Linked DNA regions of Homo sapiens. The gene in region 1 interacts genetically with each later gene. Each region holds a gene or a part of one and is shown on either strand. Other genes may lie near its edges. The genes, in order: NTRK1 and DOT1L.

Region 1 (3,500 bases):
TCCTCCCTCCTGCTGCAGTCTCCTTCTCGCCGGTGGGTGAGTAGCCCAAGGTGGAGGGCAGGTTCTGCCTGGTCTCTGGAGCTGAGGCTGGGGCAGAGGGTACAGCTGAACTGATCCCTGAGAGACCAGCTGGGGCCAGGGTTGGGGGGTTACTGGAGGCTACAGTGTGTGTCAAGGCTCACCCCTCCTGCCCTGTGTCCCTACAGACACTAACAGCACATCTGGAGACCCGGTGGAGAAGAAGGACGAAACACCTTTTGGGGTGAGATAGGAAGTAGAAGCTTGTGCAGACTTTGGGACCGGGAGGCTGGGTAGAGGCTCATCTGCATGTCATTTCTGGTCAGAGCAGGGAGATCACTACCATCTGGCCTGAGCTCTGACGGCCACCCGCACAGCCACTGCAGGGGTCCCCAGGGGAGGATGAGGCAGGTCTGGAGACCTGGCTCCGGGCTCCCATGCAGGATGAAAAAATGGCTTACTACAGGAGGCTCTGAGAGTACAGGAGGAGCCCCTGGATCTAACTACCCCTGTCCCCCACCAGGTCTCGGTGGCTGTGGGCCTGGCCGTCTTTGCCTGCCTCTTCCTTTCTACGCTGCTCCTTGTGCTCAACAAATGTGGACGGAGAAACAAGTTTGGGATCAACCGTGAGTCGGGGCTGCAGAGGGCTGTCTGTCTGTCTGTTCTCCTGGCTTTGTTTCCTACTGGCTCTTCCTGACTCTGTCTCTGGGGGGCTGTGCACATGGGAGTTCCAGGGCGTGTGAGTGTGTTTGGGGTATAAATGAAGGCCTGGCTGTGAGGCTTGTGAGTGTGAGTGTGTGTGGGAGCGTGTGTCGGGCTGGTGCTGGGGTAGTTTCAGAGGCGGCAGCTGCTAATTGGTGGCTGGATTGTAGTCAAGCATTAAGTGGGTCTGGGAGGTCTGGGCTCTGTGGGGGTGGAGGGGGAGTTCTTTGGTGCCCATGGGGCCAGGGGTGGGACAGGAGCCAGCACAGGGAGAGGCGGTGGTGCCCCCTTCCCCCTGCCTGCTGTCTCGCTCCCTAGCTTCTCAGTCTCTCCCCTGCAAGTTACAAGGTGGGGGTGACCAGGCATCCTGCAGGCAAGGGTGGGCAGGGCCAAGGTGTGGGCAAACCCCTCCATGCGGCTGTGTCTCCTCTCTAGGCCCGGCTGTGCTGGCTCCAGAGGATGGGCTGGCCATGTCCCTGCATTTCATGACATTGGGTGGCAGCTCCCTGTCCCCCACCGAGGGCAAAGGCTCTGGGCTCCAAGGCCACATCATCGAGAACCCACAATACTTCAGTGATGCCTGTGAGGGGCTATGCTGGGTCAAGGGCAGGGACGAGTGTGTGTGTGTGTGTGTGTGTGTGTGTGTGTGTGTAGAAGCCCCTAGGCCTGAACGATCCCTCCCTTTCTCCCACCCCTCCCCAGCCCTATTCCAGCCATAGGCCCTGTCATATTCTTCTCAGGCTGAGTCCAGCCTGGCTCTTAGCTGCATCCCCTGCCCAGAGTCACAGCTAGCCCAAACCATGTCCTCTCGGGGCAGGTGCAGCCCCACACTATGACATGGGGCTTGCTGAAGGGGTGCAGGTTGAATTTTAGCCCCCATGCAGTCCCTCGTCTGGGCAGCCTTGTGCAGCACACAGCCCTGCCAAGACAGTCCCCGCTACAACCCCAGCCCTCCCAAGACTGGGGCTACCGTCTGACCCTGCAAGCCCCCTCAGGTGTTCACCACATCAAGCGCCGGGACATCGTGCTCAAGTGGGAGCTGGGGGAGGGCGCCTTTGGGAAGGTCTTCCTTGCTGAGTGCCACAACCTCCTGCCTGAGCAGGACAAGATGCTGGTGGCTGTCAAGGTGAGACCCTGCCCCGGGGGGTACTGCTGGCCTGGGTCCCACCCCCAGGAGCTCCATCACATCAGGACAGAGTGGGGGGAGATGCAGAGGGCTGACATGGCTGGATACCGGGGTGGGCGGGCTGCCCTGGGTGAACAGCAGTGAGGGCTCGGCCCCCAACTCAGTCCTGTCCCTGCCGCTTCCATCCAGGCACTGAAGGAGGCGTCCGAGAGTGCTCGGCAGGACTTCCAGCGTGAGGCTGAGCTGCTCACCATGCTGCAGCACCAGCACATCGTGCGCTTCTTCGGCGTCTGCACCGAGGGCCGCCCCCTGCTCATGGTCTTTGAGTATATGCGGCACGGGGACCTCAACCGCTTCCTCCGGTACCAGCACCTGGCCTCAGCGCTGGCCCCGGCCCCTGGCTCTGGGCCCCGTCTTCCCTTCCCTATAGACATCCCTGCTTGTCTTTCAAACCAAGGGGAGACACCAAGAAAGATCAGGAAGGCACATTCCCGTCCCCAGGGAGCTCTGAGATGGTAGAGGAGGCAGATGTGTGAACATAGGGGTGACTCTTGCAAAGGACAAGTGTCAGTAGTCAGGGAGGTTGCGATGGCAAAGGCCGTGAGCTAAAACTTTGGGGTGGGTGGGCTTTGCAGAGGGTGTATGTGCATTTGTGTGTGGCACACAAAGGCCAGGCCTGTAAGGGTAGCAGTTTAGATAACGACAGTAACAACGACAGTAATGAACATTTATCAGGCACCTTCTATGTTCCAGGTGCTATGTTATATACTTTATAATTTATTATTTTTTATTTTTTAACATGTATTTATTACTGTTATTGTTTTAGAGTTGGGGTCTTGCTCTGTTGCCTAGGCTGGAGTGCAACGGTGTTGCAATAATAGCTCACTGCAGCCTCAAATTCCTGGGCTCAAGCAATTCTCCCGCCTTAGCCTCCCCAGTAGCTGGGACTACAGGTGCACACCATTGCACCTGGCTCTACAATTTGTTCTTATTATGGTTCTATGTGCTGGTACATATATATCTTGTATAGTAATATAAATATGTATTTATTTTTTATGGCCTCCAAGCATATATTGCAATTTACACTTGAAGCAAGTTACAAAAAATTCATTTCTTTGGCTTCGGACAGAACAACTCTGATACATTTATCTATTTGTGCTGATAATTTTAATAACTTCGAGAAATGTGCCTGTTTCACAGATAAGGCTTAGAGAGGTTCAGTGACTTGCCCAAGGGCACACAGGTAGTGAATGGCCCAGGGGTGATGTGGCCCCAGGCAGAGCCCCTACTCTCAGCCCCTGATGTGATGGTCACATGTTCCCTCGGTCTAGTCCTTCTCTGATGAGATCACCCCCGGGAGGATGGGGCAGTGTTTGCAAGGCAGGGAGAAGAGCAGGGTTTGGAATCAGCTGCCACTTATGAGCTGAGCCTTCTTTGCCAAGTAGCTTTCCTCTCTGACCTCACTTTCCTCACCAGTAAGAGGGACAGTGTGGGGGCTGTGGTTCTGGATGAGCAAGCGCTGTATGGTTGTCCAGTTGATGGTCATGATCTGGTCCCCAAACATCCCTTTGGGAGTGATGGGTCATTCATGCAGTCAGGCTGCAGGACTCAGCTAGGAGAGACCCCTGAGTCTTGGGCTTATCCTGTGGACCAG
Region 2 (4,005 bases), on another chromosome or scaffold:
CACACCTGCCGGCCACCACCCACTGCACTTCCCCACACCACACTCCAAGTCCAACAAAGGTCAGTAGAGTGACCGCAGAACCCAGTAGCTCCACTCCCACATGGGCCAAAGAGCAAACCTACATCCACACAGAAACCTGGACCCCAGCGCTCACAGCAGAACGATTCACAATCGCCAAAACAGGGAATCAAGCCGGGGTCCATCAACTGGGCACGGATGAAGATGGCACACTCCATCCACACAGGGAATGCCCTCACGTGCCAAGAGAAGGGACAGGCCCAGACATGAGCGTGTTCGGGGGCCCGGGGGCTGGGGGACGACTAGGGAGTGACTGCTGAGGCGGGCAACGCTTTTTCCCGGGTGAAGAAAATGTCCTGAATTAGACAGAGGTGTATAAAAGTACAAAAAACCGGCCGGGCACGGGGGCTGACACTTGGAATCCCAGCACTGTGGGAGGCCGAGGCGGGTGGGTCGACTGAGGCCAGGAGTTCGAGACCACCCTGGCCAACAGGGCAAAACCTCCACCTCTATTAAAAATACAAAAATTGGCCGGGTGCGGTGGCTCATGCCTGTCATCCCATCAATTTCGGAGGCTGAGGTGGGCAGATCACCTGAGGTCAGGAGTTTGAGACCAGCTCGGCCAAGATGGTGAAACCCTGTCTCTACTAAAAATACAAAAATCAGCTGGGCATAGTGGTGCATGCCTGTAATCCCAGCTACTCGGGAGGCTGAGGCAGGAGAACTGCTTGAACCCAGCAGGCGGAGGCTGCAGTGAGTAAAGATCACAAGATCGTGCCACTGCCCTCCAGCCTGGGCAACAGAGCAAGACTCCGTCTCAGCTGGTGGGGGCGGGGATTAACCGGGCGTGGTGGTGGGCACCTGTAATCCCAGCTACTCGGGAGGCTGAGGCAGGAGAATGGCATGAACCTGGGAGGCAGAGATTGCAGTGAGCCGAGATCACACAATTGCACTCCAGCCTGGGGGACAGAATGAGTCTCCATCTCGAAAAATAAAAAAAAAGAAAGAGGCCAGACGTCGTGGCTCACGCCTGTAATCCCAGCACTTTGGGAGGCCCAGGCGGGCGGATCACTAGGTCAGGAGATCAAGACCATCCTGGCTAACACGGTGAAACCCCATCTCTACTAAAAATACAAAAAATTAGCCAGGCGTGGTGGCGGGCGCCTGTAGTCCCAGCTACTCGGGAGGCTGAGGCAGGAGAATGGCGTGAACCCGGGAGGTGGAGCTTGCAGTGAGCCGAGATCGCACCACTGCACTCCAGCCTGGGCGACAGAGTGAGACTCCGTCTGAAAAATAAAAATAAAAAATAAAAAATAAATGCTAAAAACCACTGAAGCATATACTTGAAGCGCACAATTTTTAAAAAATAGTTCAATGCCCAGAAAATCCCGCCCATGCTACACAAGACGAGATTCTCTGCATGCACAGCGCTGGGTGGGAGAACCCAGAGGCAGCTGTGAGGACAGGGGCCACGGCAGCCAATGTGGCCTCGTGAGGAGTGAGGCTGGGAGCCAGGGTGGGCCTCTGAGCTCCTCCTCAACCCAGAAGGTGTGAGGCCCTCTCCACTTGCACACGTACCTTTCACCCAAAAGAAAAAGACTGGCGAAAACAACGGCCCAGGTCACCGGACACGCCCCGGCTTTGGACAGCCCACCTTGACTGCATTGCCTCACGCTCGACATTTTACAGCGTGAGACTTCGCAAAGTGAGCCAGGTCTCGAGCACCCCAGACTGTTTTGCCTCAACGTGGCCCTTGGGGACAGCCACCTGGGAGCCACTCACCGCCCTCTCGGCGCGGCTGGGCAGCACCACGCTGGCCAGGGGAATGCTGACCGGGAGCTTGTTGGGCTGCACGGTGCTGAGCGGGATGCTGATGGGCAGGCTGGTGATGAGCTCCCCGCTGCTGCCGTAGGCGCGCTCTCTCAGGCCCTGCAGACGAAGGCCCGACCCCCAGTCGTGGGTCAACAAACCCCTCCAGGACACAGGGACCACAGCCACAGGACGGGGGCCTGCTACAGCTCTCTCAAGGCGGCCCCCACGCTGCCAAGGCCCTGCAACCTTCCCCACGCAGTCAGGCCCTCCTGGACACCGGCTTTGGGACACTCCAGAGGGACGGCACGCTCCTGGTGTCTGAAAGCAATGCCCATCTGTCCCCTCCAGCCTGCCCGCCCGGCTCGGTGGGCAGTCACCCGTGGGGCCACCAAGCCTCCCAGGGCCCACATCCATCACTGCCAAGTCCATGCAACGTCACCGTCCTTCCCTCTCCATCCCTGTGCACACAGGCCAGTGCCCCCGGGGAAGTCCTCATGGGCAGCGGCCTCCCAAACTGGGCTCTGTGTCTCTACCAGCACTTGCCGTCCGTCACTGAGAACTAAGAGGCATCAGGGACACCCTGACAAACCCCATGTCCTCCATGGCACCTGCCCAACGTCACCTGTGACCTGTCCTTACTGGTTGCCCCCAACTCTGCCACAACATCCTACTCCAGGTCAGCCCCAGTACCTCACCGTGCCCCAAGGTCAACTAGGACAAGCCCTCCTGCTAGCAACTCGCTCAGGCCGCCTCTGCTGAGCACCTCCCTGAGCCCGGGGCAGGGGTCGCGGCCCGCACCTTCTCACTGCTCTTCTCTCCAGCAAGCTGCAAGGCCCCAGGGGACAGGGGCCGCGGGTCCTGAGGGCTCAGCTTCATGCTGCCAGGCACGCTGGGGCTCTGGTAGGGAAGGCCGTTCTCCTTGGTGTGCTCAGCTCTGGAATGAGAAGCTGCAGTCACTCTCGAGGGCCGTGGGCTGGCACTCAGAGGCAGCGGCCTGGCCCAGCACCTCCCCACCTCAGTCTCCTCAACAAACACACTCCTGCTGAGAACCCGACAGCCTGAGCACACCAGGCAGAGTCGGCAGGTACCAGCTGCAGACCCCCAGCCCCACCAGGGCACTCACCTCGAATGCAGCTCACTGGCAGCCGGCCTGCCGGGCACCGTGTGGTCCTGGCTCAGGTGCCGCCTCAGCACAATCTTGGCCGGGGACAGCCTAGTGTAGTCGGGTGCGGCTAGGCCAGACAGCTTCTCCAGGCGCGGCCGGCCGACGTGGCTAGGGGTACAGGGCACCACCTCCTGGTCCAGGGGTGAGGCCAGGTACTGGGGCGTGTTCTGCTTCGACGAAGGCCGGCTCAGCACACCGCAGAGCTCATAGCCAGCAGCCTGGCCGTTCATGGAGAGCTCCGGGCTCATGCTGCTCAAGTGAGGCAGCGAGAACTTGGTGCAGTCCAGCTCCAGGTGCAGCCGGCTGGCGTCAGGCTCCAGCTCGCGGCCCAGGGCGCCCTTCCCACGCAGGTGCAGGGACAGGGCGTCGTCAGGCGGCACACAGGACTTGAGCTGCAGGAGCTCCTGCTGCCGCTGGCTCTTCTCTAGCTCCACAATGCTGATCTGCAGGAGGAGAGATGGTGTCAGGCCCGCCCCACCGGGGGACCACTCCAGGGAACCAAGACTGCCACAGATGGACACCCGGAGGGGTGGCCAGGACCCCCGCTGCTTGTGTGGGATGGAAAAACCAAAGCTGCCGACCACATAGAGGCGGGGTCGGGAAGCTGGGGGCGTCAAATAAAGTCATGTGGAGGGCCGAGGATGGTTTTTGCTGACATGGAAGCACCTTCTTCAAAAAGAGCAACAGGAAGATACAAAGAGCTCTCGTCTCTCAAAATAGACTCTAAGTGTAAAACATCCAGTTTCACTAAGTGTAAAACCTGTGGAGGGACACGCCACTCGAGCGTGGCAGCTTCCCCGGGCGCTGAGTCTGAGAGGGGCTTTTTCCTTTTAGTTTATCTGTTCTGTTTACCTGCTTTCCTTTCTTTTAACAAACACATTGTTTTTTTATTACACAGAAAAGATGATGACAAAAATGGTCAGAACCCAAATATGCTCTTCCCGAGGGCTCTACTCCAGGCAGACCCACAGGGCCCGGCTGTGGTAAAGAGGTCGGCGACCTCCGTTTCT

What was found.
Region 2: changes in NTRK1 (region 1) and DOT1L together harm fitness less than expected from each alone (positive genetic interaction), as found in Homo sapiens cells (one large-scale study listed by BioGRID).

The regions. Positions count from the first base shown.
Region 1 is NC_000001.11:156,874,365-156,877,864, forward strand, and holds part of NTRK1 (high affinity nerve growth factor receptor isoform 2 precursor), read left to right. Parts: intron 1-18; coding exon 19-36; intron 37-206; coding exon 207-262; intron 263-541; coding exon 542-644; intron 645-1,155; coding exon 1,156-1,302; intron 1,303-1,715; coding exon 1,716-1,846; intron 1,847-2,035; coding exon 2,036-2,208; intron 2,209-3,500. UniProt on the Homo sapiens protein: Receptor tyrosine kinase involved in the development and the maturation of the central and peripheral nervous systems through regulation of proliferation, differentiation and survival of sympathetic and nervous neurons.
Region 2 is NC_000019.10:2,215,714-2,219,718, reverse strand, and holds part of DOT1L (histone-lysine N-methyltransferase, H3 lysine-79 specific), read right to left. Parts: intron 3,439-4,005; coding exon 2,954-3,438; intron 2,765-2,953; coding exon 2,629-2,764; intron 1,948-2,628; coding exon 1,801-1,947; intron 1-1,800. UniProt on the Homo sapiens protein: Histone methyltransferase. Methylates 'Lys-79' of histone H3. Nucleosomes are preferred as substrate compared to free histones. Binds to DNA.